4 linked regions of the Homo sapiens genome follow. Changing the gene in region 3 together with the main gene of any one other region gives a genetic interaction. Each region holds a gene or a part of one and is shown on either strand. Other genes may lie near its edges. The genes, in order: WDR7, SACM1L, EGFR and STRAP.

The links.
Region 1: changes in EGFR (region 3) and WDR7 together harm fitness more than expected from each alone (negative genetic interaction), as found in Homo sapiens cells (2 studies listed by BioGRID).
Region 2: changes in EGFR (region 3) and SACM1L together harm fitness more than expected from each alone (negative genetic interaction), as found in Homo sapiens cells (2 studies listed by BioGRID).
Region 4: changes in EGFR (region 3) and STRAP together harm fitness more than expected from each alone (negative genetic interaction), as found in Homo sapiens cells (2 studies listed by BioGRID).

The regions. Positions count from the first base shown.
Region 1 is NC_000018.10:56,654,332-56,661,359, forward strand, and holds part of WDR7 (WD repeat-containing protein 7), read left to right. Parts: intron 1-7,028.
Region 2 is NC_000003.12:45,685,140-45,692,406, forward strand, and holds the start of SACM1L (phosphatidylinositol-3-phosphatase SAC1), read left to right. Parts: upstream 1-4,256; 5' UTR 4,257-4,326; coding exon 4,327-4,358; intron 4,359-5,208; exon of another isoform or gene 5,209-5,248; intron 5,249-7,267.
Region 3 is NC_000007.14:55,204,010-55,211,037, forward strand, and holds part of EGFR (epidermal growth factor receptor isoform a precursor), read left to right. Parts: intron 1-1,246; coding exon 1,247-1,608; 3' UTR 1,609-7,028. UniProt on the Homo sapiens protein: Receptor tyrosine kinase binding ligands of the EGF family and activating several signaling cascades to convert extracellular cues into appropriate cellular responses.
Region 4 is NC_000012.12:15,878,341-15,885,405, forward strand, and holds the start of STRAP (serine-threonine kinase receptor-associated protein), read left to right. Parts: upstream 1-4,046; 5' UTR 4,047-4,367; coding exon 4,368-4,479; intron 4,480-5,200; coding exon 5,201-5,336; intron 5,337-7,065. UniProt on the Homo sapiens protein: The SMN complex catalyzes the assembly of small nuclear ribonucleoproteins (snRNPs), the building blocks of the spliceosome, and thereby plays an important role in the splicing of cellular pre-mRNAs.

The sequences.
Region 1 (7,028 bases), on a different chromosome or scaffold from region 3:
ATGTTGGCCAGGATGGTCTCGATCTCTTGACCTTGTGATCTGCCTGCCTCAGCCTCCCAAAGTGCTGGGATTACAGGCATGAGCCAGCGTGCCCTGCCGAATCTGAGTATTTCTTCATGTGTGTTTTATCTTTTTTAATTTTTTGTTTGTGAAATTGCCTGTTCATCCCTTCACCCATTTTTATTTTGGGGTTTCAGTTCTTTCTTGTTGATTTGCGGACATTTCTTGTATTCCATAGATACTAATCATTTAAGTATTACAAGTGTATCTGTTCCTAATCTGTCATTTGTCTGTAATCTTTCTCATGATGTTCTTCATTGAACAGAAATCTTATATTTTGATATAATCAAATTAAAAAATCTTTTGGCTATATGGTTGTATTTTGGAGGTTTTGTTTAAGAAATCTTTCCCCAGTGCTGTGCCACAAAGTTACTCTGCTATGTTATGTACTGCTAATTCATAGTTTTCTTTTAAACTTATTGGTCTTTAATACATGCAGAGTTTAACTTTTTATGTGTCACAAGTTTGTGATCCAGTTTATTTTCCATGTACTGTGCCAGTTTTCCTGGCATCTTTCTTCCCTTTTCCCATAGATATGGTGTCACACTGTGTATTAAGTGCTCATATATACTCTGAATATTGAGTCCTTTCCTTTGGTTTGTCTGTTCTTGCTCTAACACTATACTGTTTTAACTCTATGGTTTTGTAGTAGTATGTTTTTTCCTCCTATATAAATAACTCTTCCCATTTATTTTGTTTTAACTTTATTTTGATATAATTATAGGTTCATAGGAAGTTGCACAAATAGTAAAGAGAGGTCTGGTTTCCTCCAGTGGTTACATTTTATGCAGCTTCACCCAAGGAACTTCCCTCAATAGTTACAATTTATACCACTGTAGTACAGTATCAAAACCAATAAATTGATTTTGTACAATGCCTGTGTATAGTTCTGTGCCATTTTATCACCTGTGTGGATTCCTGCAACTACCTCTGCAATCAAGATACAGAGCTAGGCTGATGTGGTTGACCATGCCCGTAGTCCCAGCACTTTGGGAGGCTGAGGTAGGCAGATTGCTTGAGCCCAGGAGTTTGAGACCAGCAACATGTCAAAACCCCGTCTCTGGCAAAAAATACGAAAATTAGTCTGGTGTGGTTGTGCATGCCTGTAGTCCCAGCTACTTGGGGGGCTGAGGTGGGAGGATCACCTAAGCCTGGGAAGGTTGAAGCTGCAGTGAGCTGTGATTATGCCACTGCACTCTAGCCTGGGACAGAGTAAGACCCTGTCTCAAAAAAAAAAAAAAAAAAAGAGGAAGAAGATATGGAACTATTCTATCACTACAAAGATTTTCTTCATGTTACCTCTTTCTAGTTTCATCCACCTCCCTTACCCTCACCATCCCTTAATCAGTTTAATCAGTTTCTATCTCTATAATTTTGTCATTACCAGAGTGCTATATAAATGGAATCCTATAGCATGTAATCTTTTGAAATTGAGATTCATCCAAATTGTTGAATGAGACAGTTCTTGAGATTCATCAACATTGTTGAATGAGACAGTTCTTGAGGTTCATCCAAATTGTTGCATTTATCAATAGTTTGTACTTCTTAATTGTTGAGTAGTATTCCATGGTACGTATGTATCCAAGTTTAACCATTCACCTGCATATCTGGGCTGTTTTTAATTTTTGGCTGTTACAGATAAAGCTGCTGTGAACATTCTTGTACAGTTTTGTGTGTGTGTGTGCGTATGGATTTAAATTTTCATTTTTTGGGGGATAAATGCCCAGGGACATGGTTGCTGGATGGTATGGTAAGTGTATGTTTAGTTTTTGAAGTAACTCCCAAAGTGTTTTCTGGAGTGGTTGTACCATTTTACATTTCTACCAGGAATGTATGAGAGATTGCATTTCTTTGCATCGTCTTCCACTAGCATTTGATACTGTCACTGTTTTTTTTTTTTTTTTTGGAGATGGAGTCTTGCTCTGTCACCCAGGCTGGAGTGCAGTGGCGCAATCTTGGCTCAGTGCAACCTCCGCCTCCCAGATTCAAGCAATTCTCCTGCCTCAGCCTCCCGAGTAGCTGGGACTACAAGCGCATGCCACCACACCTAGTTAATTTTTTGCATTTTAGTAGAGATGGGGTTTTACCATGTTGCCCAAGCTGGTCTCGAACTCCTGAGCTCAGGCAATCTGCCCGCCTCAGCCTCCCAAAGTGCTAGGATTATAGATGTGAGCCACTGCGCCCGGCCACTATTTTTTTTTTTTTTAACTGTTCTGATGTGTGATGATATCTCAGTGTGGTCTTAATTTGCATTTCCCAAATTAGCTAGTGATGTTAAATATCTGGTAGAGCACTTTCTCTCATCTTTGCCCATTTTCAAAGTTTGGCTCAGCTATTTATGTATTTTTATTCTTTCCTATGTATTTTAGAGTTAGTTTGAGTTTCTAAAAACAATACCAGTAGAACTTTGACTTACAGATTTATTTTGAGGAAAATTGATATCTTTATAATATTAGGACATTTTATCTGAGAACATGGAATGGTCTTTCACTTATGACTTTGAGTAAAATATTGTAGTTTATAAAAATACTGTGAATGGTATACTATTTTTTAAGTAGATTAGTGCTGATACAAGAAAATGCTATTGATTTTCATATATTGATAATCTACCTTTGTCTTTTTGTGTTCTACTAGACAGAAATCAAAATTCATAGTGTAAATCTTGAAGTAATTTTAGTGCGTGTAGAGTGAGGCCTGGAACTATGTAGTGCCTTTATTCCTGGGTTTATCTGTTACATCTCCCTGTGACAGTTTTTTAATTTGTTGGGACTTTTTTTTTTTTTTTAGATGGAGTCTCACTCTGTTGCCCAGGCTGGAGTGCAGTGGTGTGATCTCAGCTCACTGCAACCTCCAACTCCCAAGTTCAAGCGTTTCTCCTGCCTCAGCCTCCCTAGTAGCTGGGATTACAGGTGCCCGCCAGGACACCCGGCCAATTTTTGTATTTTTAGTAGAGATGGGGTTTCACCAGGTTGGTCTCAAACTCCTGACCTCAGGTTATCCTCCCACCTAGGCCTCCTGAAGTGCTGGGATTACAGGCGTGAGCCACCATGCCTGGCAATTAAATTATGGAGTTAGTGAGGTTTGTAGGTTCTGTTCTCATTTTTGTCCATTTAATTCATGCACTTTTTGAAGAATTAATAGTCTTACATATGTGCATGCCATTGATCATAGGCAAAATCAGCTGAGAGCTATGGATAGCTCAGTGAAATTCTGCCATCAATAAGAGGACATGTTCTCACTGACAGGTACTATGATAGTAATGTTAACTTACAATTTGAATTCCATCCATATGGTTCGTTTGTCTTTGTCTGTATCTGATTCTTAAAGCTGCTTTGCTGAATACAAAAGAACACAAACAATTATGTTGGAAGAAGAAATCCTACATCATGACTGCATTCAGAAAGTCCTTGTGAGTCCAAGGAAATTTTTACTTCCTTTCTATTAAGGAACATATATATTACATTCATGAAGTATTTACTATTTTAAATAAAATTGGATTTTTTTTCAAACTATGTTGGTGACGTTTAATGAAATTACAGGGGTTTTTTTTTTTGGCTGTTGATTACTTGAGTTAGTGGGAGCCATAAAATGTTGGAACAACGAATGTTAGGGCACTGGTCAGTTTAGGGGAGGGAAGATTTCTGAAGTGCTAAGCGTTATTCTGTAGGCTCTTTAAAATATAACATTTCTGGAGATATGTGACTTTGTTTTTTTGTTTTGTTTTGTTTTTGACACAGAATCTCGCTCTGTCGCCCAGGCTAGAGTGCAGTGGTATGATCTCGGCTCACTGCAACCTCTGCCTCCCCGGTTCAAGCAATTTTTCTGCCTCAGCCTCCCAAGTAGCTGGGATTACAGGTGTGCACCACCACACCCAACTAATTTTTGTATTTTTATTAGAGACAGGGTTTCACCATGTTGGCCTGGCTGGTCTCAAACTCCTGACCTCAAGTGATCTGCCTGCCTCGGCCTCCCAAAGTACTGGAATTAGTCATGAGCCACTGCGCCCAGCCTGGAAATACATGACTTTGAAAATGCAGTCTCCCATTCAGCTTAGCAGTTGTAATTTATGACCCTACAAGCTCACTGAAGATAGTTTTTTGCACATCATGTTTCTCTCTGAATGTTGGTAGTTGGTATATGTCAGTGATAACAGACTGATAGAGTGAGCCAGTTACCTTCTGTTTTCACATTCAAGTTTATTTCACATTTAAGCTATCTTCCTTAAAGGCTCTTCTTTTTTCTAAATGTTTCAAATACAAATAAACAGTATAAACTTCCATTAGTTGGAGCAAAAAATTCACACGAATGAAATATCACTGTACTTACTTACTTTTTTTTAACGACAGAGTCTCACTCTGTTGCTCAGACTGGAGTGCAGTGGCATGATCTTGGCTCACTGCAACCTCCACTTCCTGGGTTCAAGCGATTCTCCTGCCCCAGCCTCCTGAGTAGCTGGGACTACAGGCGTGCACCACTGTGCCCAGCTAATTTTTGTATTTTTTTTTTAGTAGAGATGGGGTTTCACCATGTTGGCCAGGCTGGTCTTGAACTCCTGATCTTGTGATCTGCCAGCTTTGGCCTCCCAAAGTGCTGGGATTATAGGCTTGAGCCACCGCGCCCGGCCCCCTGTACTTACTTTTAAGAAACAGTGTTGTGATTAATTACTAGGCCTTAGTGACTGTAGTAGTGATTATGTCAGCTAATTTGCTTCATAGGCCCTAAGATATATTTTGCTGTGTATATGTCACGATAGACTAAAAGAGGCAGGAGCGTAGGTAAAACCTGTAGCTGGGGAAAAAAACAATATGTTAATGACATTTTGATTAAGGAGGCTTGTATTAATTGTTGACATTATTATAGAAGAACTAGTTGACAAGAAACTGCCCTGTGAAATCCAAAACATATAAAATCGGGATATACTTTAATTTGCTGATGGGTGCAACTTTACTTAAACCAACGCAAACATATTTCATTCACTAGTTTGTTTATTTATTCAAGTATTTGGATTCCTTCTATGTGGAAGGAATTTTAGGCACTGGGAATACAATAGAGAAGAAACCAAACACAGATCTTTACCATCATAGAACATACACCAGGAGAGGCAGATGATAAATAAATAAAACATATGGTATGTTAAATGATTGTAAGTGTTTAGTTTGAGTGGTAGATTTTGCAATTTATGATGGTCAGGAAACTCTTCACTAAAAAGGTAATATTTTATAGAGATTTGAAGAGGGCAAAGGAGTGTGCCAGAAGGAATCTGGGGTGGGGGACACTGTTCTGAGGTAAGATTCTGTTTAGTATCTTTGAGCAACACCAATGAATCAGAGCAGATGGAAAAGAGTAAGCAAGGGAGAGAACAACCACCTCACTCATATAGGATAGGCAGTTGTATGTAGAGTTGGCTTTTGCTATGTGTGAGACAGGAAGCCATTGGAAGATTTTGAGATGTGATCACAGCATGATTTTTTTTTTTAATAGTGTCACTCTATATGCTGTGTTGAGACTGCAGGGGAGCAAAGATGGAAACAGGGAGACCAGTTAGAGGGCTGTTGTGTTATCCCTGATGGAAGATGCTGATTGAGAATAGGGTGGTTGTAGTGAAAGTGTTGAGATGTTGCAGGATTCTGGATATGATTTGAAGGTATAGCCAGTGGAGTTTACTGATGGATTGGGATGTGGAATGTGTATGTGTGAGAGAGTAATAGAGTAACTAAAGATGATTCTAGGATTTTGGTCTGTGTAGCTATAAAACTGGAGTTGCCAATAACTAAGATGGGTAGACTGTGGGAGGGGCACCATTGAGGAATGATCAGGGGCTCACTTTTGGACATGCCAAGTTTGAGAAACTTATTAGCTATCCAAAAGGAGATGTTGAGTAGGAAGCTGGACATACTGATTTGGATTTCAGAAAAGCATCCCACACAATAAACTGGGGAACTGTCAAAATCTGCAATCCAAAATGCTCCAAAATCCAAAACTCTTGAGCATAAACATGACACTCCAAAGAAATGCTCATTGGAGCATTTTGCATTTTAGATTTTTCAGATTAGAGATGCTCAACCTGTAAGTATAATACAAATATCCCCAAATTTGAAAAAAATCCAAAATCTAAAACACTTCTGATCCCAAGTGTTTCAGATAAAGGATACTCAACCTATAGATGGTTTAAAGCAATGAGGCTTGATGAGATCATTGAGGGAGGGAGTGTTGCCAGAGAAGAGAAGTCTAAGGACTAAGTTGTGGGAATGCCAATATTTAAAGGTTAAAAAAAAAAAAAAAGAAAGAAAAGAAAGAAAGGAGACTAAAGCTAGAGAAGAAGAAGGAAAGTCAGGAAAAAGTGAAGACTTTGAGGCCAGGTAAAGAAGTATTTATTTCAAAGACGGAATATGAACTATGTCAAATTGCTGGTAGGTCAAGTAAGATAAGGGTTAGAACTTGATAATGGATTTAACAGTGGGGAGGTCATTGGTGACCTTGTCAAGGGCAGTTTTTGTGACAGGCAGAGCAGGAGGAGGGTAATGTTACAAATGAGAAGTTTAACTTGAGACATCACATATTTCCTCAGAGTTTAAAATGGAAATGGAGAGCTGGGTTCCTCTCTAGTTAGTGTGACTTTCATACCTTCACAGTTGCCCATCTTATTTTAGTGATTCCAAGACTAATGTGACAATTCAGCTTCAAATTTGGGGAAGCATGTTTGTTTCTTCTTTTTCTGTTTAATTCAATTTATATACAACGAGAAAGTTCAGTGCTCAGTTTAGACTTTTGATGGCAACCTAAGGGAAGAAATTGGAATGACTGGAGATGCAAATGAGATTAGAGGTGGGTGGCAGGAGAAAGTCGAAGTTGGTTCAACCAAATGGAATTTCCTTTAAAAAGTAAGGTCTTGGTGGGCATAATGGGCTTTTAGCTTAATCAGTAACTCTTGAAATTGCTGTAGGTTGGTGATGGATACAGCATAAGCA
Region 2 (7,267 bases), on a different chromosome or scaffold from region 3:
TATAACAATTTTACTATAGGAAAAACTTGGCTACAGATATGAATTTATATTACCCATCATTGGCTGGTTCCTTATCCTGAACATTGGTTTCCTTGGAATCTGATTTTGGCTTGTTTGGCCTTTAAAAACCCCAGAAGAATGGGGTTTCTGCCAGATTATTTTCTGGTTTTCAGTCTCACTGAATGTCACAAAGGCCTTGGTTTATGGTTCCCAACTGGTAAAGAAACGTCAAACTTTGCCTCTCTTAGTTCCTTCTACATGACAATGGGTGGCAGTTGCTCATATGGAAGCATTTCTTTTCCCCCTAAAGCCTATGAGACAGGCTGCAACTTAAACCCCTATTTTATTAAAGGAGAGGAAATGTCCAAGAGCCCAGAGATAGTGGGTAAAAGCATCATAAGGACTAGAAATGGGGTCTTCTTGTTGCTAATTAGTAGGGGTGAGGGGTAAGTGGCAGATGTGACTGCCGTCCATGCCCAGACAGGGAATTGTCCTTGAACCTACTCATGCGGTGTCTTCTGGGGTACAGTGAGTCCACAGGGCAGGACGGCCTTGGAGTCAAGAGCCCAGACTCACATTCTATCTCAGGCTTCATAACTCAATTGCTCCATGACCTTAAGCCAATTTAGTTCCCTCATCTGTAAAAATGGGGATAACAACTGAATTTACCTCATGGGATTGTGTAATGCCCAACCTTGTTTTTACTAACCCTGTTTTTAGACTCTCCCTCTTCCTTTAATCACCTAGCCTTGTTTCCACCTGAATTGACTCTCCCTTAGCTAAGACAGCCAGACAGACTCCATCTTGGCTCTTTCACTGGCACCCCTTCCTCAAGGACTTAACTTGTGCAAGCTGACTCCCAGCACATCCAAGAATGCAATTAACTGATAAGATACTGTGGCAAGCTATATCCGCAATTCCCAGGAATTCGTCTGATTGATAACGCCCAAAGCCCCGGGTCTATCACCTTGTAATAGTCTTAAAGCCCCTGCACCTGGAACTGTTTACTTTCCTGTAACCATTTATCCTTTTAACTTTTTGCCTACTTTATTTCTGTAAAATTGTTTTAACTAGACCCCCCCCTCCCCTTTCTAAACCAAAGTATAAAAGAAAATCTAGCCCTTTCCTCAGGGCTGAGAAAATTTTGAGTGTTAGCCGTCTCTCGGTCGCTGGCTAATAAAGGACTCTTAATTCGTCTTAAAGTGTGGCGTTTTTCTAACTCGCTCAGGTACAACAATTGTTGTAAGGAATGATTGAATTCATCCAAGTAAGGGAATTAGAGCAGTTTCTGGCATGAAGTAATTGCTCAATAAAGTGTGTCAGGTTTTAAGATTAATTGATCTTTACATCATGATAAATGGCAACAAAATAAATGACAAATGGATTAAAGTAAATGGTAAAAACAACATAAGAACAAAACATTAAAAAATCATATAATAGAAGAAACCAAATATTAGTAAGTGTGAATATATAAAGTGAAAATTACTACAAGTTCAAATATATATATATATATATATATATATATTTTTTTTTTTTTTTTTTTTTTGAGACAGAGTTTCACTGTGTCACCCAGGCTGGAGTGCAGTGACGTGATCTCAGCCAACTGCAGCCTCCACCTCCCAGGTTCAAGCAATTCTCCTGCCTCAGCCTCCTGAGTGGCTGGGACTACAGGCACACACCACCATGCCTTGCTAATTTTTGTATTTTTAAATAGAGAGAGGGTTTCACCATGTTGGCCAGGCGGGTCTCGAACTCCTGACCTCAAGAGATCCACCTGCCTTGGCCTCCCAAAGCACTGGGATTACAGGCATGAGCCACCGTGCCCAGCCGTTAAAAAAATTTTGAAAAGGTAAATCATAAGCTGGAAAAAAGATTGCAACGTATTTAAGAGTTAATACCCTTAATATATTAAAAAATCAAATTTGTAAGAAAAAATTCAATACATCAAGAGAAAATATATAAAGTACATGTAAAAGGAAGTTCCATATTCCAATTATGAAAATTGCAAATCACGGTTAAATTTATAATAGCCAGTGTTGGTTAGCATGCACGAAAACAGAGAAACAGGTGCTGTTGATGGAAGTGTGTTTTGGTTTAATTTTTTGGAGGGCAGTCAGAAAGTAACAAAAGTCTTAAAAATGTCCATAAAATGGACCTTACAGATGTCCACCTGGTCGTTCCACCTCTAGAAATTTGTAAGACAAATAATTCGGCCGGGCACAGTGGCTCACATCTAACCCCAGCACTTTGGGAGGCTGAGGTGGGCGGATCACGAGATCAGTAGATCAAGACCATCCTTGCTAACACGGTGAAACCCCGTCTCTACTAAAAAATACAAAAAATTAGTCGGGCGTGGTGGCACACACCTGTAGTCCCAGTTACTTGGGAGGCTGAAGCAGGAGAATTGCTTGAACCCGGGAGGCAGAGACTGCAGTAAGCCGAGATCACGCCACTGCACTCCAGCCTGGGTGACAGAGCGAGACTCCGTCTCAAAATAATAATAATTCAACACAGGGTCTCATTCTGTTGCTCAGGCTGGAGTGCAGTGGCATGGTAACAGCTCACTGCAGCCTCAACCTCCTGGGCTGAGGTGATCCTCCCACCTCAGCCTCCTGAGTAGCTAGGACTATAGGTGCACACCACCACACCTGGCTAATTAAAATTTATTTATTTATTTAGTAAATAGAGATGAGGTCTTGCTATGTTGCCCAGGCTGGTCTCGAACTCCTAAGCAGCATCATTTTTTCTAGGTGTTAAACTGACAACCACCCAAATTCCCAGCATAAGGATTCTGCTTAAAATATCTAGCTCTCTGATGAAATATCTTCAAAGAATATTTAATGACCTTAAATCTCAGACAAAAAGGTAAGGAGACAAAATGAGGAACCCATTTCCGTACAACCCCAATTTGGAAAAACACATGTGCAAGTATGCCCATGTTAAAAAATATAGAAGAAAAAAAGGCTTTAAGGAAAAAAAAAATAATAGTAATGATTTAGGGTGGGAATCGCGTTAATATTCCCAATAATTTTATATATTTTAAAAATCTATAATTTTATCAGGGGAAAACGTTATGTTGCGGAAATTAATTGATCGATTGAGTGATTGGTTAACGGACAGTGTCCGATGACTCATATAATCCCCCGGTTCGAGTCCCTTTAGGCCGCAGACGTTTCGCGCCTTCTCGGGTGTCCAAGTCGCGCATCCATACAATGAGGGGTAATATACTAGATTACCTGAGGTCTTCTTACGGTAAAAACACCGGTGTCTTAAGGTTTCCCAGTGGAATTTGGGGGCCGGGTTGACTTCGGAGCTGGAGCTCGCAAAGGCCGGGGCTGCTGCAGATTCTGACGCTTTGTGGACCCCTACTACCGAGCGCAGCCGCACCGCAGGTTTTCTTCGCTGCTGGTTAGATCCAAAGCCCATCCCATCCTAGTAAACTGGGACAGCGCCGCTTCTCACATCACTATGGGGGCTTCTGCTCCGTGGCGGGGAAAGGCCAGAACTGCTGCCTTAAATACGCTTTTGCATCATCCGGTTGCTAACCTCCGGCCACAGCATTCCCCACTCCAAAATGCCACTTTTCCAGGTGTGTTTGCCTAAATTTACCCCATTTACAGACTTCTCAGGTGCATCATTGGGAACAGGGCGCTTTGCAGTTTGCAAACCACCTCAGACAACTCCAGGTTTAAAGGATAAAGGATGACATTGTGAGCAAAGCGGCATCAAAATTTCAGATATTTAACTTTCACATTCTAACCATACACCTTTCCAAGGTCTTGTAATACTTTCACATTGTGAATATACATCTTTACAAGACCCAGTAGTACATGGGTCAAGTGTGGCAAAACAGACATCGCGAGCCAGCCAGGAGTCGAACCTAGAATCTTCTGATCCGTAGTCAGACGCGTTATCCATTGCGCCACTGGCCCCGACTTGCTAAAGCCTTCTCCGTGATAGCTGATCACCCTTATACAGTTTGAACGGGCTTCCGGGTACCAACGATCCATTTTGCCCTTGCGCCGCGCTCCCGCTGCTCTGCCTTTCCCCAAAACGCGCCCCACCAATCCGCAGCGGCTTCGTCACGGCGCTCTTCGTCGCACTCCAACCCGCCGCGTCGGCGGCATCTCTCGCGTGCTCTTGCTTGCGCACTAATTTGTCCTCCACCGCCTCCCGTTCAGGCCGGCTCTCCTGCGGGGCGGGGAAAGGGGTGGGAAGAGGCTGGGAGCTGCGGCCGCTGTGCCAGGGTGACCGGTAGAGTTGTAGCCGAGGTGGCGGCGCGGGGCGGGGCGGGCGGAGAGAGAAGGAAGGAGGTGGTTGTGCAGGATGGCGACGGCGGCCTACGAGCAGCTGAAGCTGTGAGTCCCACGGGCCAGAGGCCTGAGGCGCGGCGGGCGGGGCGGCAGGTGCGGGCCCTGGCCTCGGGGAGGGCTTCTGAGTCCCGGATTGCAGATAGGGTGTGGGAGCTCCTCGCATTTACCGGTTTTCCTCAGCCGGCGCGGCCTCTCCTAGGCCTCGCCCGAGTAGCCATAGGCCGGGAACCAGCGGCTCGCCGGCCTTTCTCCACCGTGCTCGGCCCCAGCGCCCACGGCTGAAGAGAGAAGCTGCCGACTGGCCCCCACCGAGCCGGGGTCGGCGTTATGATGCGGCCCTTCAGGGCACGCTTGTCCCCACTTTCTATGCAGAGCTACCGACTAAATTTATCTGTATGACTTAACAGAGAAAAAGAGTTTTCTCTTACTTAACGGACCTACAGCAGCAATTTAGAGTCTACGCACAAATCAACAAATCTTTGTTTTGCTTACAGCCTATCTGGGTACCGAAGCCTGCCTGCCCCCTCTTCAGTGTGCAGAAAAAATTTAAAGTACAGTCAGTAGTCTTAAGGTCCTGAAGGAGTTTACTTTGGTTTAAATTTTAAACAGCTCCAGCCTAAAGCAGGTTCTTAAGTCAGTGTCGACAGCCAGAGGCTAATCTCGGTAATTTTGGTACTGCAAATTGACTTTTCGGTAAATCCAAGTTCTTGAGTCTTTGATACAGAGGCTGTGGTTGTTAAGAGTTATAAAATAGGTGTTTTTAAGGGTTTTGGTTTGTCTTGGATTAAAAACAACATGTGTTTATTTCCCTTAGTGTTACCCATTAGCATCCACACTTTTCTTGTCTGTGAATAATTTTGTTGTACTCACTTCGTGTTTAATGCTTTACCCCTAGGCTGTTTGAAAATCTGGTGGCCACAGCCTGGGAATATCTGGTAGGAGAAACAAATGTAATTTTTTAGAAGCTTATCTATCCCTGTATATGAGCTAAAATACCTTGGCAGTTAGGCATAGATACCGCATTTCTTTTGCAGGGAAATGACACCAAAATGTGGTTTGGGCACTTAAGCTCCTCAGACCTCAACCTCACTAGTAACTTTCTGAAAGGTTCAGTGGAAAGTTAGAGGTGCAAAATTCAGAGAGGTCATCTATTCCACATTGTATGTGTTGCAAAAAAGATGATTGCTTTTTCTACAGTGCACCCCCTGTGGGTGCCATTTCTGTTTACTGTAATGTTCTTTGAAAACCCTAGCTGCACACTTCCCTCCACATTTTCCTCTCCACCTTTCCCTATTTTCTCCCAGTTCCCCTTTGCAAAGTGCTCACCTCGTCTTTGGTGAAAGAGTTGAAGGAAGTGTCTTCCACTGCGTTTCTGGCCAGGCCACTGTCACATGTGCTCTGCTAGCTAATTAGGTTATTGTGTATCTGATAGGCACTGAAGGGTTTAATGTGATCCTACACCAGGTCTCAAATGTGTTTAAGCCATATGGAGCCATGGCTTCATGCAGCTTAGCGTGGCAAAGATTGAATAGGATGGAGAACTTGAGAATTATGATGATTGTTTTTCAGCTGCCAGAACACTAAATTTAACCAGTTCAGACCTTAAAACAAACCCAAATCCTCGCATACATAAAAGAGAAAGGAAATTTGTCCCTGAAGTAGTAAGAATGATGTTTTTGTATTGATTTTTGTGAGAAGTGGAAACTCTTAAATTATTTGGGTGATAAAGTCAAACTGGGGTTATGTGAAAGTCATTCTCTCATTTGTCAGTCCTAGCTTTTTTTCCCCCTGAAAAAAAAGTTTAGAGTGTTTCTGTAAATGTGAAGGTACAACTTTTTTGCACCTTTTTCTTTACCAAGGGGTTTATGAGTTAGAGTTTCCATTTTTATTCCTTCCTTTTGGCCCTTCCTGCTCTGAGGCTGCTGTTGAAGGTTTTCAAATGTGGCTCCTGCCCTAAGGAGTATTCTTTTTTGGATGCATTTAGAAGTGAAATTGGTTTCTGTGTAAGAATTGGTAGGAGATAGTAGCCATTTTTTAAAATGTGTCTGGAGATGTGTTTTAAGAAATATCCATGCAAAAGAGATAGTTCGATTATTTTATTACAAAAGGATTGCTAAAAGGATTTATTTAAATGTTGAAATGCTTGTTTTTTTTTTCTTTTGTTTCGTTTTGTCTTTAAAGAGATGGGGTCTCATTCTGTTGCCCAGGCTGGAGTACAGTGGTTTGATCATAGCTCACTGCAGCCTCTAACTCCTAGTCTCAAGCGAGCCTCCCACCTCAGCCTCTCGAGGAGCTAGGACTACAGATGCACACCACCACACCTGTCCTACTTCGGATTTTAAATAATAATTCTGTCTGCATTATGCCATGCTTTTTCTCCAGCCCATCTCTGCCTTGTTGAATTTCACCTTTCTAATGCTCTGGTTTTATCCTCTACTTTCCTGCTTACAATTTCCAGTTCCATCTTACTGACCTATAGGATCAAACTTGCATTTCTTAGCCATCTGTATATTCTAGCCTTTTTATAATCTGTCGCCTAATTTATTTCCCGTAACTGCCCAGAGCCTTTTCCCCACTTCTGCAAAACTTGGCTCATCCCCTTCTAGCTTCAAACTTGGGTGTTATTTTGATCCTTCTACCCAGAATGCCTTCTTCCTCTCTGTTCTCTTTACATACTGGTCACATCCATGGTAGAGCCAAGAGATCTCAGGTTTTGTTAGTCAGAATGGATATGGATTCATATCTTAACTTGACTACTTGTTTTGTGTCCTGGGCATAGTACTTAATCCTTCTGAATTGGTGTTTCAGTCTGTAAAATGGGAATGTTGATACTTCACAGGATTATTGTAAGGTTTGAAAGAGAGTTTTTTTTTTTTTTTATTATTTTTGTGAGACAGGGTCTCACTTGTCACCCAGGCTGGAGTGCAGTGGTGTGAGCTCAGCTCACTGCAGCC
Region 3 (7,028 bases):
TTATATATATGTTAGTGTAATATCTAATATATAGTTTATTGGCTATCTAATATAATATAAACAGATTATCAATATTATAAGCTATTAGAAAAATGCAAGTTAAGGCAGATGATATACCTCTTTACACACCAACTACACACACCAACTACACACACACATACACACAGACACACACGACACACACCATACACATGTACACACACACCACATATACACAAACGTACACACACACCACACACACATACACACCACACACACACCACACATACATACACATCCACACACCACACATGTACACACGCCACACACACACATACACACCACATACACATATGTATGCACACATACACACCAACACCACACAGACACCACACATGCATAAACATATAGACATATACACACCACACACCATATGTACACATGTACACACACACCACATATACACACAACACACACAAATACACACACCACACACACACCACAAAAACCCCACACACACACAAACATATACACCCCACACATACGCATATATACACACACACATACACACCACACACATACACACCACACACACACCACACATACACACACGTACACACACCACACACACACCACAGACACACACCACACATACATACACATACACACACCACACACACGTACACACACCACACACACCACAGACACACATAGACACACCACATACACACCCACACCACACACACACAACTCATACCACACATACATACACAATAGACACATACACACCACACACACCATACATACACACGTATACACACACCACATATACACACACGTACACACACACCACACACACCCACATGCACACACCACACACACATACAAATATACACCACACACACATACACCACACACACGGTGCACATACACACACATATACACACACCAGACACACATACCACATACACATCACACATATATGTATACATGCATACACATACACACACACATACACACACTCTCCTCAAGGCAGTTTATCCTCTGAGAACTTTAAATTTACAAAAGACACATATGTCCATTACTTTGAGAAGGACAGGAAAGAACCCACTTTCTTTTGCAGCAACAGCAAGAGGGCCCTCCCGAGGCTCCTGCTCCCTGTCATAAGTCTCCTTGTTGAGGACATTCACAGGGTTCAGAACCCAGGGATCCTGCATGGGATGGTGCTTTGCTGATTACTTCACCTCTGATTTCTTTCCACTTTCAGAATACATAAACCAGTCCGTTCCCAAAAGGCCCGCTGGCTCTGTGCAGAATCCTGTCTATCACAATCAGCCTCTGAACCCCGCGCCCAGCAGAGACCCACACTACCAGGACCCCCACAGCACTGCAGTGGGCAACCCCGAGTATCTCAACACTGTCCAGCCCACCTGTGTCAACAGCACATTCGACAGCCCTGCCCACTGGGCCCAGAAAGGCAGCCACCAAATTAGCCTGGACAACCCTGACTACCAGCAGGACTTCTTTCCCAAGGAAGCCAAGCCAAATGGCATCTTTAAGGGCTCCACAGCTGAAAATGCAGAATACCTAAGGGTCGCGCCACAAAGCAGTGAATTTATTGGAGCATGACCACGGAGGATAGTATGAGCCCTAAAAATCCAGACTCTTTCGATACCCAGGACCAAGCCACAGCAGGTCCTCCATCCCAACAGCCATGCCCGCATTAGCTCTTAGACCCACAGACTGGTTTTGCAACGTTTACACCGACTAGCCAGGAAGTACTTCCACCTCGGGCACATTTTGGGAAGTTGCATTCCTTTGTCTTCAAACTGTGAAGCATTTACAGAAACGCATCCAGCAAGAATATTGTCCCTTTGAGCAGAAATTTATCTTTCAAAGAGGTATATTTGAAAAAAAAAAAAAGTATATGTGAGGATTTTTATTGATTGGGGATCTTGGAGTTTTTCATTGTCGCTATTGATTTTTACTTCAATGGGCTCTTCCAACAAGGAAGAAGCTTGCTGGTAGCACTTGCTACCCTGAGTTCATCCAGGCCCAACTGTGAGCAAGGAGCACAAGCCACAAGTCTTCCAGAGGATGCTTGATTCCAGTGGTTCTGCTTCAAGGCTTCCACTGCAAAACACTAAAGATCCAAGAAGGCCTTCATGGCCCCAGCAGGCCGGATCGGTACTGTATCAAGTCATGGCAGGTACAGTAGGATAAGCCACTCTGTCCCTTCCTGGGCAAAGAAGAAACGGAGGGGATGGAATTCTTCCTTAGACTTACTTTTGTAAAAATGTCCCCACGGTACTTACTCCCCACTGATGGACCAGTGGTTTCCAGTCATGAGCGTTAGACTGACTTGTTTGTCTTCCATTCCATTGTTTTGAAACTCAGTATGCTGCCCCTGTCTTGCTGTCATGAAATCAGCAAGAGAGGATGACACATCAAATAATAACTCGGATTCCAGCCCACATTGGATTCATCAGCATTTGGACCAATAGCCCACAGCTGAGAATGTGGAATACCTAAGGATAGCACCGCTTTTGTTCTCGCAAAAACGTATCTCCTAATTTGAGGCTCAGATGAAATGCATCAGGTCCTTTGGGGCATAGATCAGAAGACTACAAAAATGAAGCTGCTCTGAAATCTCCTTTAGCCATCACCCCAACCCCCCAAAATTAGTTTGTGTTACTTATGGAAGATAGTTTTCTCCTTTTACTTCACTTCAAAAGCTTTTTACTCAAAGAGTATATGTTCCCTCCAGGTCAGCTGCCCCCAAACCCCCTCCTTACGCTTTGTCACACAAAAAGTGTCTCTGCCTTGAGTCATCTATTCAAGCACTTACAGCTCTGGCCACAACAGGGCATTTTACAGGTGCGAATGACAGTAGCATTATGAGTAGTGTGGAATTCAGGTAGTAAATATGAAACTAGGGTTTGAAATTGATAATGCTTTCACAACATTTGCAGATGTTTTAGAAGGAAAAAAGTTCCTTCCTAAAATAATTTCTCTACAATTGGAAGATTGGAAGATTCAGCTAGTTAGGAGCCCACCTTTTTTCCTAATCTGTGTGTGCCCTGTAACCTGACTGGTTAACAGCAGTCCTTTGTAAACAGTGTTTTAAACTCTCCTAGTCAATATCCACCCCATCCAATTTATCAAGGAAGAAATGGTTCAGAAAATATTTTCAGCCTACAGTTATGTTCAGTCACACACACATACAAAATGTTCCTTTTGCTTTTAAAGTAATTTTTGACTCCCAGATCAGTCAGAGCCCCTACAGCATTGTTAAGAAAGTATTTGATTTTTGTCTCAATGAAAATAAAACTATATTCATTTCCACTCTATTATGCTCTCAAATACCCCTAAGCATCTATACTAGCCTGGTATGGGTATGAAAGATACAAAGATAAATAAAACATAGTCCCTGATTCTAAGAAATTCACAATTTAGCAAAGGAAATGGACTCATAGATGCTAACCTTAAAACAACGTGACAAATGCCAGACAGGACCCATCAGCCAGGCACTGTGAGAGCACAGAGCAGGGAGGTTGGGTCCTGCCTGAGGAGACCTGGAAGGGAGGCCTCACAGGAGGATGACCAGGTCTCAGTCAGCGGGGAGGTGGAAAGTGCAGGTGCATCAGGGGCACCCTGACCGAGGAAACAGCTGCCAGAGGCCTCCACTGCTAAAGTCCACATAAGGCTGAGGTCAGTCACCCTAAACAACCTGCTCCCTCTAAGCCAGGGGATGAGCTTGGAGCATCCCACAAGTTCCCTAAAAGTTGCAGCCCCCAGGGGGATTTTGAGCTATCATCTCTGCACATGCTTAGTGAGAAGACTACACAACATTTCTAAGAATCTGAGATTTTATATTGTCAGTTAACCACTTTCATTATTCATTCACCTCAGGACATGCAGAAATATTTCAGTCAGAACTGGGAAACAGAAGGACCTACATTCTGCTGTCACTTATGTGTCAAGAAGCAGATGATCGATGAGGCAGGTCAGTTGTAAGTGAGTCACATTGTAGCATTAAATTCTAGTATTTTTGTAGTTTGAAACAGTAACTTAATAAAAGAGCAAAAGCTATTCTAGCTTTCTTCTTCATATTTTAATTTTCCACCATAAAGTTTAGTTGCTAAATTCTATTAATTTTAAGATTGTGCTTCCCAAAATAGTTCTCACTTCATCTGTCCAGGGAGGCACAGTTCTGTCTGGTAGAAGCCGCAAAGCCCTTAGCCTCTTCACGGATCTGGCGACTGTGATGGGCAGGTCAGGAGAGGAGCTGCCCAAAGTCCCATGATTTTCACCTAACAGCCCTGATCAGTCAGTACTCAAAGCTTGGACTCCATCCCTGAAGGTCTTCCTGATTGATAGCCTGGCCTTAATACCCTACAGAAAGCCTGTCCATTGGCTGTTTCTTCCTCAGTCAGTTCCTGGAAGACCTTACCCCATGACCCCAGCTTCAGATGTGGTCTTTGGAAACAGAGGTCGAAGGAAAGTAAGGAGCTGAGAGCTCACATTCATAGGTGCCGCCAGCCTTCGTGCATCTTCTTGCATCATCTCTAAGGAGCTCCTCTAATTACACCATGCCCGTCACCCCATGAGGGATCAGAGAAGGGATGAGTCTTCTAAACTCTATATTCGCTGTGAGTCCAGGTTGTAAGGGGGAGCACTGTGGATGCATCCTATTGCACTCCAGCTGATGACACCAAAGCTTAGGTGTTTGCTGAAAGTTCTTGATGTTGTGACTTACCACCCCTGCCTCACAACTGCAGACATAAGGGGACTATGGATTGCTTAGCAGGAAAGGCACTGGTTCTCAAGGGCGGCTGCCCTTGGGAATCTTCTGGTCCCAACCAGAAAGACTGTGGCTTGATTTTCTCAGGTGCAGCCCAGCCGTAGGGCCTTTTCAGAGCACCCCCTGGTTATTGCAACATTCATCAAAGTTTCTAGAACCTCTGGCCTAAAGGAAGGGCCTGGTGGGATCTACTTGGCACTCGCTGGGGGGCCACCCCCCAGTGCCACTCTCACTAGGCCTCTGATTGCACTTGTGTAGGATGAAGCTGGTGGGTGATGGGAACTCAGCACCTCCCCTCAGGCAGAAAAGAATCATCTGTGGAGCTTCAAAAGAAGGGGCCTGGAGTCTCTGCAGACCAATTCAACCCAAATCTCGGGGGCTCTTTCATGATTCTAATGGGCAACCAGGGTTGAAACCCTTATTTCTAGGGTCTTCAGTTGTACAAGACTGTGGGTCTGTACCAGAGCCCCCGTCAGAGTAGAATAAAAGGCTGGGTAGGGTAGAGATTCCCATGTGCAGTGGAGAGAACAATCTGCAGTCACTGATAAGCCTGAGACTTGGCTCATTTCAAAAGCGTTCAATTCATCCTCACCAGCAGTTCAGCTGGAAAGGGGCAAATACCCCCACCTGAGCTTTGAAAACGCCCTGGGACCCTCTGCATTCTCTAAGTAAGTTATAGAAACCAGTCTCTTCCCTCCTTTGTGAGTGAGCTGCTATTCCACGTAGGCAACACCTGTTGAAATTGCCCTCAATGTCTACTCTGCATTTCTTTCTTGTGATAAGCACACACTTTTATTGCAACATAATGATCTGCTCACATTTCCTTGCCTGGGGGCTGTAAAACCTTACAGAACAGAAATCCTTGCCTCTTTCACCAGCCACACCTGCCATACCAGGGGTACAGCTTTGTACTATTGAAGACACAGACAGGATTTTTAAATGTAAATCTATTTTTGTAACTTTGTTGCGGGATATAGTTCTCTTTATGTAGCACTGAACTTTGTACAATATATTTTTAGAAACTCATTTTTCTACTAAAACAAACACAGTTTACTTTAGAGAGACTGCAATAGAATCAAAATTTGAAACTGAAATCTTTGTTTAAAAGGGTTAAGTTGAGGCAAGAGGAAAGCCCTTTCTCTCTCTTATAAAAAGGCACAACCTCATTGGGGAGCTAAGCTAGGTCATTGTCATGGTGAAGAAGAGAAGCATCGTTTTTATATTTAGGAAATTTTAAAAGATGATGGAAAGCACATTTAGCTTGGTCTGAGGCAGGTTCTGTTGGGGCAGTGTTAATGGAAAGGGCTCACTGTTGTTACTACTAGAAAAATCCAGTTGCATGCCATACTCTCATCATCTGCCAGTGTAACCCTGTACATGTAAGAAAAGCAATAACATAGCACTTTGTTGGTTTATATATATAATGTGACTTCAATGCAAATTTTATTTTTATATTTACAATTGATATGCATTTACCAGTATAAACTAGACATGTCTGGAGAGCCTAATAATGTTCAGCACACTTTGGTTAGTTCACCAACAGTCTTACCAAGCCTGGGCCCAGCCACCCTAGAGAAGTTATTCAGCCCTGGCTGCAGTGACATCACCTGAGGAGCTTTTAAAAGCTTGAAGCCCAGCTACACCTCAGACCGATTAAACGCAAATCTCTGGGGCTGAAACCCAAGCATTCGTAGTTTTTAAAGCTCCTGAGGTCATTCCAATGTGCGGCCAAAGTTGAGAACTACTGGCCTAGGGATTAGCCACAAGGACATGGACTTGGAGGCAAATTCTGCAGGTGTATGTGATTCTCAGGCCTAGAGAGCTAAGACACAAAGACCTCCACATCTGTCGCTGAGAGTCAAGAACCTGAACAGAGTTTCCATGAAGGTTCTCCAAGCACTAGAAGGGAGAGTGTCTAAACAATGGTTGAAAAGCAAAGGAAATATAAAACAGACACCTCTTTCCATTTCCTAAGGTTTCTCTCTTTATTAAGGGTGGACTAGTAATAAAATATAATATTCTTGCTGCTTATGCAGCTGACATTGTTGCCCTCCCTAAAGCAACCAAGTAGCCTTTATTTCCCACAGTGAAAGAAAACGCTGGCCTATCAGTTACATTACAAAAGGCAGATTTCAAGAGGATTGAGTAAGTAGTTGGATGGCTTTCATAAAAACAAGAATTCAAGAAGAGGATTCATGCTTTAAGAAACATTTGTTATACATTCCTCACAAATTATACCTGGGAT
Region 4 (7,065 bases), on a different chromosome or scaffold from region 3:
TAACAGCATTTGCAGTGACCTGGATGAGATCGGAGACTATTATTCTAAGTGAAGTAACTCAGGAATGGAAAACGAAACATCGTATGTTCTCACTGATAAGTGAGAGCTAAGCTATGAGGACGCAAAGGCATAAGAATGATACAATGGACTTTGGGGACTTGGAGGGAGGAGTGGGAGGGGGGACGAGGGATTAAAAGACTACACATATGGTGCAGTGTATACTGCTTAGGTGATATGTGCACCAAAGTCTCACAAATCACCACTAAAGAACTTACTCATGTAACCAAATACTAACTGTACCCCAATAACTTATGGAAAAATAAAAATAATAATTTTAAAAACGTCATTGCCCCTCCCCCCCAAAAACTGGAACTTTTATTTGCAATTGTATTGAAACTGTAAATCATTTTGGAGATGTATTTGTTTTCTAGGTCTGCCATAACAGATGTTGGTGGCTTAAACAATGGAAATTTATTTTCTCACAGTTCTAGAGGCTAGAAGTCCAAGACTAAGGTCTGTAAATTTCCTTTCTTCTCTGAGGCCTTTCCCCATGACTTGCAGATGGCCACCTTCTCACTCTGTCCTCATCTGGTCATTCCTTTGTGTTGTCTGTGTCCTCATCTCCTCTTCTCAATAAAGATAACTGTTGCATTGGATTAAGGCCCACCCATATGACCTAATTTTACCTTACTTATCCAAATACAGTCACATTCTGAGATAGTGAGGATTAGGACTTTAACATAGGAATTTGGAGGAGGGGAACCCAATTCAGTCCATAACAGGAGAGCACTGATATTTTCCCAAAATTGAACCTGCCAACCCACAAACACAATATATCCATTTTCCATTTATTTTAATATTATTTAATGCCTTTAATAGAGAACGATACATTTTGCTGAGAGGCATTAAATAATATTGAACATCATGTTGGGTATTCCTTTATTTAACGAGATCCCCTTTTCTCCTTTTTGTACTATGGTTTAAGTCCTAGAAGGTTGACATTTATGGACCCCATTAAAGGGCTCCCTTGTCTTCTGGGCTCTGGCTGGGTTTGACCAATGGGAAGCATGGGAGATCTAAAAGTAGATATTCATTTCCCCACTTCTTCCCCATGGCTGTGCTGATGATAATTGGGAGCAGTTGTGTTCTTCTACTGATTATTCCAGCTCTCGCCCAGAGCCTTCTCCTGCAACCGTACCTTTCTCAAATAAATCAGGTTCAGATAACTGCTCCCTTTCAGTTTCTCATTCAGATCTATGGTTAGTGCCCTATTTTCTCCTTGTTGTTTACTTTTGATCCTGGCCACACTTCTGTAACTAATCCCTTCATTACACTGCTCTCAACTTCTACATTTCAGCGTGCCAGTTTTTTTTCTGCTGGGGAGTACACTTTGTTTTTTTATTCCTATGTACTTTATAATTCTTGATGCTATTTAACATGGCATATTTTAAAATTACATTTTTTGTTGTTGCTAATGTATAGAAATGTGATTTCTTCATTACACTTAAAACAACAACAACAACAACAACAAAACCCAGTAACCTAGGCATCGCACCCAGCCTGGGTAACATAGTGAGACTTCATCTCTTCTAAAAAAAGAAAAAAACAACTTCAGTAACCTTTCTAAATTCTCTCATTAATTCCAATAATTTTTATTTTTATTTTTTTCTTTTGAGACATGGTCTTACCTCATTGTCCAGGCTGCAGTGCAGTGGCAGAAATTGGGCTTATTGCAGCCATGAACTTCTGGGCTCAAGCGATCCTCCTGCCTCAGTGTCCCGTGTAGCTGGGATCACAGTAGTGTACCACCATGCCTGGCTAATTTTTTTATTTTTTTGTAGAGCCTGGGTCTCACTTTGTTGCCCAGACTGGTCTTGAACTCCTGGGCTGGAGTGATCCTCCCATCTCAGCCACCCAAAGTACTGGGAACTGGAATTACAGGCATGAGCCACCACACCTTGCCTCTTTTCTTTGTATATAACCTCTAAAACAATTTCTAATCACAGATTTACAACTTTCTTTGGAAGATTTATGCATTTTTAAGTTACCTGAACATCTAGTACGATGCTGTATTGAAGAGGCAGTAGCAATCATCTGTCTCGTACCTAATCTAATACAGAATGCTTTCTGTATTTCACCATTAGGTGTGGGGTTTCAGATATTCTATGAGGTTAAAAAAGTCCCTTCTATTTCTAGTGTCTCAGAATTCTTATAAGTGAAAGAATGCTGAATTCTATCAAAAACTTCTTACACATCTTTTGATATGATTTTCTTTAATCTTTTAATATTGTTAATTATATCAATTACATTAACCTGTCTTCTAATATTAAATTGACCTTGAAGCCTACCCAATTGGTCATAATACACAATACTCTTAGAACTCAGAATCCAAATGAGCAGGAAATAATACATTCTTTAGAGCCAAGTATGTACCATAACTTACCAATTATATTCTTATCTACACACAATGAGCAATAAATGAACATGTATCAGTATCTGACCAGTTGTGTCATTTTGAGTGGGTCTTTTATTTACCTCCATCAGTAATGCAACAATCTATTTAATCAGTAAACAGTCATGCTGAGTATTCACTAAATGCCATTCACTTTTCTGGCACTAGAGTACAAATGACAAAGCCATAACCATTGCCATTAAGGAGTTCATAAATGTGTGAGTGGTGCGTATGTGTGAGACAAAAGGGAGAGGATGGCACAAAGGAGGAGTCGAACAAGATAAAATGAAAAACATATATAGTAAGTGCTTTACCGTAAGTGAATGAACGAGAGTACTAAGGAAAAAGAATGGAGACGTATTTCAAGTTCTCACGTTGTTTGACTCGAATCTTGTAGACGGTGTTTGCTGCAAAAAGATGAAGAAAACATTCACAGACATTTATGTTGATTACATATTTATTGCTATGTGCCCAGACGTTTTGACCTTGGGGATAAAGTAGCAAAGAAAACACAAAAATCTCTGTTGTATTGGGTTTACATTCTATCAATAAAGATACAACTTGCCCAGAGAAAAGCCCTCTCCTGGTTAGGAAACAGTATCAACAATTAACAGCTCTGGTGGTTTCACAGAGCCACAGTGGGCTGCCTGCTGCAGACAATATCAGAGTTTGTTTATATTTAAATATTATTTTAATATTTCTATTTTTGTCCATGTATTATAATGCACATCTATGTAATTTGCAAATCATCACTCATATATACATCATATCAAAAGGTGTAAAAGTTTTTGATAGAATTCAGCATTCATTCGCTTATAAAATGAGTGAAGGCTCACTTTACGGATGAGAGTATTTCATCAAAAAAATTGGGGATCTACGACTCTAGAGTTCTCCGAAGTCCACCAAGGAAAAAGTAACTTGAATTTAATCGCATTTAAAACTATATAGTATCCACTCCTAAAACATTAGCAACATAGGAAAACTTACACAGCGGAAGAAATGACTGGGGATTTTTTTTTTTTTTTTAATACATGGTCTCGCTCTGTTGCCCAGGCTGGAGTGCGGTGGCGCGAGCACCGCTTACTGCGGTGTCGACCTCTCGGGCTCGAGTTATCCTCCCACCTCAGCCTTCCAAGTAGGTGGGACCACAGGCACCACCACTCCAAGCCCGTATATGGTTTTTAAATAAGACAAATTGCAAAAAACGTTGCCAGACAGCGTTCGCTGGTTTGGGCCGTCACTGGGTATGGCTCGTGTCCGTCTAGATATTCAGAGGCCGAGCACAGTCCTCAGTAGGGCTGCTCGGCAGGTACACAGCTGACGCTGGTCCTTGGACTTATGGGAGTGGGAACAACTTTCAACTCGGCCGCGGACCAGGAAGGCGTTCTGACCCGCTAGAGCTCGGGGACAGGGACCCCATCCCGGTGCCTAGAGCGTCTCCCTTAGTCGGCGTGGGCCAGCGCCAGTTACCTCACGAGCACTGAACTAGCGCCTGCGCCCTTCTATACTTCTCGCTCTTTCTTCAAGTCACTTCTACCCGGCGAGCCCGCCCTCCCGCCAATCGTCATTTCCGGCGGGTGCTCTGCGTCATTTACGTCGTCACTTCCTGCCGATGCCGGTGTGGACGCTGTGAATCGTGGCTGGCCCGGTTCTCCGCTTCTCCCCATCCCCTACTTTCCTCCCTCCCTCCCTTTCCCTCCCTCGTCGACTGTTGCTTGCTGGTCGCAGACTCCCTGACCCCTCCCTCACCCCTCCCTAACCTCGGTGCCACCGGATTGCCCTTCTTTTCCTGTTGCCCAGCCCAGCCCTAGTGTCAGGGCGGGGGCCTGGAGCAGCCCGAGGCACTGCAGCAGAAGAGAGAAAAGACAACGACGACCCTCAGCTCGCCAGTCCGGTCGCTGGCTTCGCCGCCGCCATGGCAATGAGACAGACGCCGCTCACCTGCTCTGGCCACACGCGACCCGTGGTTGATTTGGCCTTCAGTGGCATCACGCCTTATGGGTATTTCTTAATCAGCGCTTGCAAAGGTGAGCAAGGCCGCAATCCTGGTCCTCGACGGCTGGGACTGGGCTGAAAGGGATCGGGACCCGCACGCTCCAGTGCCGAAGCGGTGGTGTGGTGAGGGGGGAGGGGGCGATATTAACATCTGAGATGAGAGCCAACACTGGTCCGGTGGAGAAAGGAGTGTGTTAGGGAATCCGCAGCTGGAGCCGAGAGGACGCTTTTGTAGAAACTATTACCTCCAACTAAGACCTCTCTCCTTATTTTATTTTTATTGCTATTTTTGAAGGAGCTGGTCAGCATTTGCCTAGACTCTCGGGACAACACGGTAAATAGCTTTCAAGGATTTGGGGAAAGGAGAAATTAGGCCAGGCCGTGCAATACCTTACAAAGACGTTCGCTCTTGTCTCACTGGATATTCCTTTGTGGTATTAGCCTCATTTTTCAAATGGGAAACTGAGATTCAGGCTAAGATGTCTGTCCAAAATAAGACTAAAATCTAGATTGTTTTGACGCAGATCAGTATTCCCAGCCAATTACAGATGCTTTTCAGAGAGAATGATCTGTTCAGCTCTTCAGTTAATTTATTACTGCACATTCCTTAGTGCCTTCAGTGGGTGGTGGTAGTTAAATAGCTGAAACAATTTTTCCACTTTGTCATTGAACATCATTGTATATTTACATTTGAATCTTAGACTTTAAGTAATCTGAACTTATAAATTACATGTTTTAAAAAATATTTTCTAGATGGTAAACCTATGCTACGCCAGGGAGATACAGGAGACTGGATTGGAACATTTTTGGGTCATAAAGGTGCTGTTTGGGGTGCAACACTGAATAAGGATGCCACCAAAGCAGCTACAGCAGCTGCAGATTTCACAGCGTAAGTGTAGCCAAGATGGCTAACTTTGGTGTTCTCTGTAGCTTGTGTCCTGAAATAATCAAAAACTTCAGTGTCAGATATTCATAAAATTCTGACTCACTGGCTGCCATACAGAACGCATGTTTGATCCCACCAAAATTCCATCGTGGTCCATCGTGGTCCTGTGTGCTTCTTTGTCTTCAGTGGTTCTCAAAATTTTCAGAGGCCTAAATGACTTATTCCGTATATTTTGATTGAGACTCAGGAATCTGCATTAACAAACGCACCAGATAATGAATGTTGATCTCCTTTACGAATGCTGCTCTGTGTGTACTCCTTAGTGATATCCTACATTGATGGCCCTAGGTTTTTATTTCAATCCCGGTTTTTGTTAACTGGCTTTAGGCATCATTAAAACTCATTGTGTCAAAAACAAACAAACAAAAAAACAACAAAAAAACAAAACTCAGCTGCTCGTCATTTCCTAAGTTTTTAAAGGTTGAAATCTAAAGCATTCTTGATTTTCCCTTATATCTAGATTATCATCATCTTTTTTGATTCTGCCAGCGGGATGTCTCCTGACTCCAATGTTCCTTCATGTAGTAACTGTGGCTGCCTTAGTTCAGGATCATTTTTAACTTTCAGTAGTTTCTTTTCCTCCTATTCATTTTCCATATTGTTGCCAGTTGTCTTCCTAAAAACATACTTGATCATGTCACTTCTCTACTAATGATCTTCCTGTCTTCCCTTTGCCATTTTAGTAGTTCATGACCTTTGATGTACATTAGAATATCTGGAGAGCTTTTCAAATATTCAAATGGTATGAGTCCCAGAAATTCGGATTTTTAAAACTTTTTTTTTTTTTTACTTTTTTACTATATATTTATATTTTATACTTTTTACTACATTTAAAAATATTTTTTAATACTTTTTACTATACAGACAGTATCTAGCTATGTTGTCCAGGCTGTCTTAAACTCTTGGCCTCCATGCCTCAGCCTCTCAAAGAGCTGGGGTTACGGGGGTGAACTACTGTGCCTGGTACAGAAATTCTGGTTTGATTGGTCTGGGGATGGAGTACTGGTCATACTGATTATTGGTGTTTTTTTATTTTTCTTTCTTCCTTTTCTTTCCTGATGTGCAGTCATAGAATTGCTGACCTAAAGGACACATTTCAATTGTTGGCCCTTTACAGTTTGCTTCATCCTAGTTCATCAGCATCATCCTCTGCCATTGCACACCATAAACCTACAATCTAATTATACTAATCTTATTGTTGCCAGAATATACCTTACCTGTTCTGACTTTTGGCGGTTAATTATGTTATTAAACTGACTTGCAGTGGCCCTCGTTGCCTTTTTGGGAATGTATCATATTTTATAAATCTTGTTATCTCCAGTTCCTACTTGGTATTTGTAACTTAGGAATTTGACACTTCATTGTTTAAACTGATGAAGGCAATATCAAGAACTGTTGTGCATACACAGATTTATTAGACTTAAGAGGCTAGAGAGTACAAGTGGTGTTTTTTTTTTTTTTTTTTTTTTTTTAAAGACAGAGTCTTGCTATGTCCCCAAGGCTGGAGTGCGGTGGCACAGTCTCGGCTCACTGCAACCTCCACCTCCCGGGTTCAAGTGATTCTCCCACCTCAGCTTCCTGAGAGGCTGGGACTACAGGTGCACGCCACCACGCCTGGCTAATTTTTGTATATTTAGTAGAGACGGGGTTTCGCCATGTTGGCCAGGCCGGT